Linked DNA regions of Homo sapiens. The protein of the gene in region 2 interacts with the protein of the main gene of each other region in a pairwise test. Each region holds a gene or a part of one and is shown on either strand. Other genes may lie near its edges.

What was found.
Region 1: the proteins of SBF1 (region 2) and AATK interact in a two-hybrid assay, tested with the Homo sapiens proteins (one study listed by BioGRID and IntAct).

What each region holds. Positions count from the first base shown.
Region 1 is NC_000017.11:81,120,931-81,124,737, reverse strand, and holds part of AATK (serine/threonine-protein kinase LMTK1), read left to right. Parts: coding exon 1-11; intron 12-1,394; coding exon 1,395-1,544; intron 1,545-1,914; coding exon 1,915-3,807. UniProt on the Homo sapiens protein: May be involved in neuronal differentiation.
Region 2 is NC_000022.11:50,458,036-50,461,569, forward strand, and holds part of SBF1 (myotubularin-related protein 5), read right to left. Parts: coding exon 3,488-3,534; intron 3,252-3,487; coding exon 3,124-3,251; intron 2,678-3,123; coding exon 2,499-2,677; intron 2,374-2,498; coding exon 2,237-2,373; intron 2,125-2,236; coding exon 1,917-2,124; intron 1,632-1,916; coding exon 1,435-1,631; intron 1,358-1,434; coding exon 1,220-1,357; intron 1-1,219. UniProt on the Homo sapiens protein: Acts as an adapter for the phosphatase MTMR2 to regulate MTMR2 catalytic activity and subcellular location. Promotes the exchange of GDP to GTP, converting inactive GDP-bound Rab proteins into their active GTP-bound form.

The sequences.
Region 1 (3,807 bases), on a different chromosome or scaffold from region 2:
GGGAATGTGTGGTGAGTGCGGCCCTGGTGGCACCGTGAGGGGCCGAGGCCGAGTGCCACCTGCCCACCCATGTCAAATCATGGCCATGAGTAGTGAGGTCAGGGGGCTGCCGGAGCCACCTGTAGTGGCCACACGCCAGCAGCCCAAGTGGCTGGTTGGGTGGCGACCCCACACCGGGGGAGATACCACCCTGACAGGGTGCCCCAGGGACCCCATGGTGGGGTCAAGGCATACGTACAGGGCCAACGGCCCGTCTTCAGCATGCCGGGGGGTCTGTCCTGAGACGGGGGCCTTGGTGAGTACCTGTCCCTGGGGAGAGGGTCTGGGTGGGGTGTTGGCTGCCTTCACGGGAGCGTAGGTCGGGCCGTGCCAGGCAGAGGGGCTGACGGTGGTGCTGGGATCTCCCACGGCCGCAGCCTGGAAGCCCCTATCCTGAGTGCCTAGCCCGGAGCGTTCATTCACACCTGGTGTAGACTCGGAAGGGGCAGGGCCGAGCCGCCAGGGGAGTGGTCCGCCCCGGGGTGGGCGCCCCTCCCTGCCTCACCTCTGCTGCTTCCCCAACCGCCCCCACCACTCCCGGGCTTTGGTCTGGCCGCCTTCTGCTTCTGGGGAACTCTCAGATCCCACGGGCCAGGCCCCCTCCCTGAGCTTTTGGGGCCTCCCCTAAGCCACTTGACTGCCCCATCATGGACACTGTCCCCTCCTCACCTCTCCACCAAGGTGCCCCTTCCTGGCCTGCCCACCCACTGCACGCTGGCTGGGGTCTCCAGTCACAGGGCTCTGGCCAAGGTCATGGTGACGTCTTGCCAAATCACCTCTGTCTCACTCTGCAGCCTCTTGGGACAGCCAGGGACCAAAGTGGCTGGGTGAAGCCACAGCCCACGGGGAAGGAGACCCCAGTTACCCTACCCGCCTGCACGCTCTGTGCACCCCTGCCTGTTACCCAGCCCTGCCCATGCTGGCCTGAGGCGTCCCCTCTCTCCCCTTCCTTCCCCCTCCCTCCCCCTCCCTCAGCCCCCTGCTGGTGCGGGCCCTACTCCGCTTTGGGCTCCACGCCCGCCCTCCAGCTCCCCCAGGGCAGCTCCCACACCGGGCAGTGTCTGGTCTTCAGTGCATCAGTGAATGAATGAATGAGTGGACAAGCAGATGGATTCGGCCAGCCCGGCCTTTATGTGCAGGCTCCACAGGTGCTGGGCTTGGGCCTGGCAGGGTGCACATTGCCTGCTGAAAGGACGCGCTGTCCTCAGGGAGGGGCGGCTGGTATGGTACCAGGCCCCGGTCCTGAGGCACTGGCGTGATGGCGGGAGCTGCCCCATTCGGCGCCCCGGGGATCCTGCGCGGTCCTTGCTGTGGCAGGCTGTGCCCAGCCCTGGCTCACGGCTGTCGCCCCACAGGTCCCTGGGCGTGACCATCTGGGAGCTCTTTGAGCTGGGCACGCAGCCCTATCCCCAGCACTCGGACCAGCAGGTGCTGGCGTACACGGTCCGGGAGCAGCAGCTCAAGCTGCCCAAGCCCCAGCTGCAGCTGACCCTGTCGGACCGCTGGTGAGGGCCCCACTGCCCTGTCCCGGACAGCCAGGCCGAGATGGGGTATCCTGATCCCCAGGCAGAGGCGGCTCACCCTGACCCCCTGGCGTTCCAGCCCTGCCTGGTCTCCCCTCCCCTCTGGTAGGGCCTCCACCCGCCACCTCTGCACCCCTGTGTACAGGGAGGGAAGGCTTAAGGATAGTGCCCAGCCCACCTCCTGCTCCCACGCTGCTGGGCTTGCCTTGGCAGATTTGGGGTGTCAATTAAGTGGGAGATACCCTTAATGCCCCCAAGACACTGGGAGTTAGGGGAACCCCCATCCCTGCTCCAGGGACGCGTTCCTGGCCAGCGTTGCCTCTGACGTGGCCCCCGGGGGACCTCCTCGCAGGTACGAGGTGATGCAGTTCTGCTGGCTGCAGCCCGAGCAGCGGCCCACAGCCGAGGAGGTGCACCTGCTGCTGTCCTACCTGTGTGCCAAGGGCGCCACCGAAGCAGAGGAGGAGTTTGAACGGCGCTGGCGCTCTCTGCGGCCCGGCGGGGGCGGCGTGGGGCCCGGGCCCGGTGCGGCGGGGCCCATGCTGGGCGGCGTGGTGGAGCTCGCCGCTGCCTCGTCCTTCCCGCTGCTGGAGCAGTTCGCGGGCGACGGCTTCCACGCGGACGGCGACGACGTGCTGACGGTGACCGAGACCAGCCGAGGCCTCAATTTTGAGTACAAGTGGGAGGCGGGCCGCGGCGCGGAGGCCTTCCCGGCCACGCTGAGCCCTGGCCGCACCGCACGCCTGCAGGAGCTGTGCGCCCCCGACGGCGCGCCCCCGGGCGTGGTTCCGGTGCTCAGCGCGCACAGCCCGTCGCTGGGCAGCGAGTACTTCATCCGCCTAGAGGAGGCCGCACCCGCCGCCGGCCACGACCCTGACTGCGCCGGCTGCGCCCCCAGTCCACCTGCCACCGCGGACCAGGACGACGACTCTGACGGCAGCACCGCCGCCTCGCTGGCCATGGAGCCGCTGCTGGGCCACGGGCCACCCGTCGACGTCCCCTGGGGCCGCGGCGACCACTACCCTCGCAGAAGCTTGGCGCGGGACCCGCTCTGCCCCTCACGCTCTCCCTCGCCCTCGGCGGGGCCCCTGAGTCTGGCGGAGGGAGGAGCGGAGGATGCAGACTGGGGCGTGGCCGCCTTCTGTCCTGCCTTCTTCGAGGACCCACTGGGCACGTCCCCTTTGGGGAGCTCAGGGGCGCCCCCGCTGCCGCTGACTGGCGAGGATGAGCTAGAGGAGGTGGGAGCGCGGAGGGCCGCCCAGCGCGGGCACTGGCGCTCCAACGTGTCAGCCAACAACAACAGCGGCAGCCGCTGTCCAGAGTCCTGGGACCCCGTCTCTGCGGGCGGCCACGCTGAGGGCTGCCCCAGTCCAAAGCAGACCCCACGGGCCTCCCCCGAGCCGGGGTACCCTGGAGAGCCTCTGCTTGGGCTCCAGGCAGCCTCTGCCCAGGAGCCAGGCTGCTGCCCCGGCCTCCCTCATCTATGCTCTGCCCAGGGCCTGGCACCTGCTCCCTGCCTGGTTACACCCTCCTGGACAGAGACAGCCAGTAGTGGGGGTGACCACCCGCAGGCAGAGCCCAAGCTTGCCACGGAGGCTGAGGGCACTACCGGACCCCGCCTGCCCCTTCCTTCCGTCCCCTCCCCATCCCAGGAGGGAGCCCCACTTCCCTCGGAGGAGGCCAGTGCCCCCGACGCCCCTGATGCCCTGCCTGACTCTCCCACGCCTGCTACTGGTGGCGAGGTGTCTGCCATCAAGCTGGCTTCTGCCCTGAATGGCAGCAGCAGCTCTCCCGAGGTGGAGGCACCCAGCAGTGAGGATGAGGACACGGCCGAGGCCACCTCAGGCATCTTCACCGACACGTCCAGCGACGGCCTGCAGGCCAGGAGGCCGGATGTGGTGCCAGCCTTCCGCTCTCTGCAGAAGCAGGTGGGGACCCCCGACTCCCTGGACTCCCTGGACATCCCGTCCTCAGCCAGTGATGGTGGCTATGAGGTCTTCAGCCCGTCGGCCACTGGCCCCTCTGGAGGGCAGCCGCGAGCGCTGGACAGTGGCTATGACACCGAGAACTATGAGTCCCCTGAGTTTGTGCTCAAGGAGGCGCAGGAAGGGTGTGAGCCCCAGGCCTTTGCGGAGCTGGCCTCAGAGGGTGAGGGCCCCGGGCCCGAGACACGGCTCTCCACCTCCCTCAGTGGCCTCAACGAGAAGAATCCCTACCGAGACTCTGCCTACTTCTCAGACCTCGA
Region 2 (3,534 bases):
ACGCCTGTAATCCCAGCACTTTGGGAGGCCGAGGCGGGCGGATCACCAGGTCAGGAGATCGAGATCATCCTGGCTAACACGGTAAAACCCTGTCTCTACTAAAAATACAATACAAAAAAATCAGCCGGGCGCGGTGGCGGGCACCTGTAGTCCCAGCTACTCGGGAGGCTGAGGCAGGAGAATGGCGTGAACCTGGGAGGTGGAGCTTGCAGTGAGCCGAGATCGCACCACCGCACTCCAGCGTGGGTGACAGAGAAAGACTCCGACTCAAAAAAAAAAAAAAAAAAAGGTCAGGGCTGGGACTAGAAGCCACGACTACAGCTGAGTGAAGCTTGAGCCCCTGAGCATTGCTGGGCACTGAGGGGGACACGGGGAGGCAGCAGCCACTGGCACTGGGGATGGTCGGAGACGCAAAAGGGACTCTGTGGGAAGCACAGGCATGGGGGGTGCAGGGGCGGCCCCACCTGCAAATGCCACTCAGGGTTTCTGGCAGGGGTGGGAAGGCAGCAAGACAGGGCGATTGTAAAATGTAAGTATATAATGTGGTATCTGGAAAAACAAAACCACTTCTGAACTAGAGAACAGGTGGTCCGGACACAGGAGTGAGTGTGGGGCCTATCTGCCACCCCGTCCTGGGGCCAGTCTAGCTCAGTGTGTGCAGGGCGCCTGTGAAGTGTGCGTGGCGGTGGGGACAGAGACAGCAAGGCCAGCTCGGGCAAGGCCCAAGGAACCAGGACACACGAGGACAGAGGCCAAGCTGCAGGCAGAGCCAGGCCAGAGGCTCCAAAGACAGTCTGGATTGGGGGATGCAGGGAGGGTGGAGTGTGGGGGATGAGGAAAAACAGTGACACTGGGAGGGAACAGGACAGAGGAGCATCTGGGATGTTTCCAGGCTGTGGGAAATGGTAAGACAGAGCCGCGTAGAGGCAGCACCCGGAGGACCCTACAGGAAGCTGCAGCAGACGCAGAGGTGGAGAGCGGGCAGGACGTCAGGGCGGGCAGGAGGTCAGGGCACACACCTGGTCTGGGCACACACTTGGTCTGGACAGGCTTCCCGCCCCTGCCCCACGGCACCCGGAGGGCATGCTCCTCATCCCACACCCAAACATCCATGACCAGCGCCGTTTCTGCTCCTCCCTGGCCTGCCTGCCAAACCATAAATGCCACCACGGCCCCCCAAAGTGCCCCTGCCCCACCGTCTGCCCACAAGCACCCTCACCGTGACTGCCCATGTGGGCTGAGGAGAAGCCGCTAAGCGTGTTGCGTCCCGACGCGTCGGCGTAGCGGGGCATGGAGCTGACCACAGCCTGCAGGTACTTCTCCTGCTCCAGGCTACTCGAGTCCGCCTGGGACTGGCCTGGGGGAGGACACGGAGCTGAGGGAGGGGAGGGTGAGATAGGGCAGGGCAGGCACAGGGCAGGACGCAGGAGGTACCTGGAGAAGGTGCGTTCTGGGCCTTGAAGAGGCCGACGACACCTTTGCCATGCAGGCCTCCAGAGCGCAGCAGCACCGCCTTGGACCGCCCGCTGCGCCAGCAGACCACGGGGAAGCGGTTCTGGCGGTAGCAGCGGGACACGCGCTGCAGGGCGTTGTCCTGGACACTCTGGGGCACGATCAGCAGCCCTGGGTAGCTGAGAGGAGGCAGAGGCGTGAAGGTGGCTGGCGACCCCACCCGCCTCCAGGCTCACGCCCCAAGCAGGGCAAGAGGAGCCAGCCCATGGCTCCCAGCAGGAGGCGCTTCCAGCTCAGCCACGGGGCCCCCCAGCCACCCCCCAGCCCTGTGGCCCGTCCCTCTGCCCGGAGTCTCCCCCTCCACATTCCTTACATGACCAGAAGCCGTGGCCCAGGCCCACAGCGGGCAGGGAAGACACCCAGTCACGTGTCCACCACCCGGGCCAGCCCTGGCCGGCCCTCACCTGCGGCAGATGGCATACATGCGGTTGACCGGAGAAATGCGGAAGGGCTCAGACTTGGCCCGGCTCAGGCTGCTGCTCAGGGTGCCCAGACCGAGGCGCTGGTAGTCGCGACAGCAAGCCCTTTCCACCAGGCTGCTCATGGTCATGCGGTCGGAGGGCTTCAGGGCTGAGGACGGGGTCAGCGTGCTGGGCTCCAGCTCCTCCGACACTGCACAGGCCGGGCACACGTGGTCATCACGGGGCCACTCCGCCTGCCCTGATCCTCCCTGGCCAATGTCAGCATCCAGAGACCACCCAGGACTCCACCCCCACCCCTCCACCTGAGATCTCGTCCTCCTGGTCCTCAGGGGGCGGCTGGCCCCGGTGCTCCCAGCTGGGGGGGTTGTACTTCTTGCGAGTGACATGCTGCCGCCCGATGGTCTTCTTGGCGTTCTTGACCAGGTTCCGGGACAGGGTTCTGAGGCCCACGAGAGTCAGCAAAGGTGAGAGGAGGAGGGACAAAGATGAGCACAGGGGCCTAGGAGGGTTGGAGCGGGAACACGGCTGAGGCCCAGCTGCCCTGCCTGGGACCCAGATCCATACCTGAGGGAAGGACCCTTGTCCTTGGTGACTCGCGGTGGCCGGCCAGGTGTGTGGGCAGAGCCCAAGGTGAACGCAAAGGTGGCCCTGATGTCCGGCGGGTACCGCAGCTTATGCAGCTGCTTACGGAAGAGCTCGGCGCTGTCAGACCCCACCTCCTCGTCAAAGGCCATTTTCAGCAGCTGTGTCAGTAAAAGCAGCCCTTAGGGGTGTGGGTGGCCCCCCAGCCCCTCCCCCAACTCTGACACTGCCAGGCTCCCCTTCCCCTCGCAGCCATGACAGAGAGAGAAGCAGGCCCCAGGCAAAGGCCTGTATCTGTGTCACACGAAGGCAAGCGCTTGTGTAAACTCGAAATCTCAGTGGCTGTGAGCTGAGGCCTGGGTTTGCAAGGCACACCCAAGACACGGACTTGAGGGCCGGCGCCCCAAGGAAAGGACAAGGACCCAAAGACCGCACATCAAACAGTGGACATCAACTCAAGAGCCACAGTGAGGGCCCCAGACATGCAAGCGTAACAACAGGGCCACTGCTGGAGACTGGCCTAAAAATGGTTCATACAAGAAAGACCGGTTTGCAGGAGAAAGACCAGGGCGGGGGATGAGAGCCCCACCCGCGCACCGCGCCCCACCTGGAATGTGCAGGAGCGCAGCTGGAGCCCGTCCTGCAGGAGCTGGTCCACAGGGGTCTGGACGCTGATGCGCTTCTCCTTGGTCAGCGCAGCCACCGGGAAGGAGCGGACCACCACCTGCTCCCCAACTTAGGACAGGCCAGGCAGAGTCAGAAGCAAGGAAGGTAAGGGGGGGGGGGTCCCAGAATCTCAGGGTACCACAGTTATGGGGAATCCCAAGTGGGTGGGGAAGGAGCAGACAAAGGCCCGTTTCCCACGGGCACCCAGAACCCCCGAGAAAAGGGAGAGGGAGGCAGGGAAAGCCCATCCATCCCAAAGACCTGGGGGAGAGGGGGCGACAGGGCCAGAGAGTCTGCAGGCTCACCCAGGGGGTCCGTGGGCATCCCCGTGAAGATGACCCGGTACGTGGTG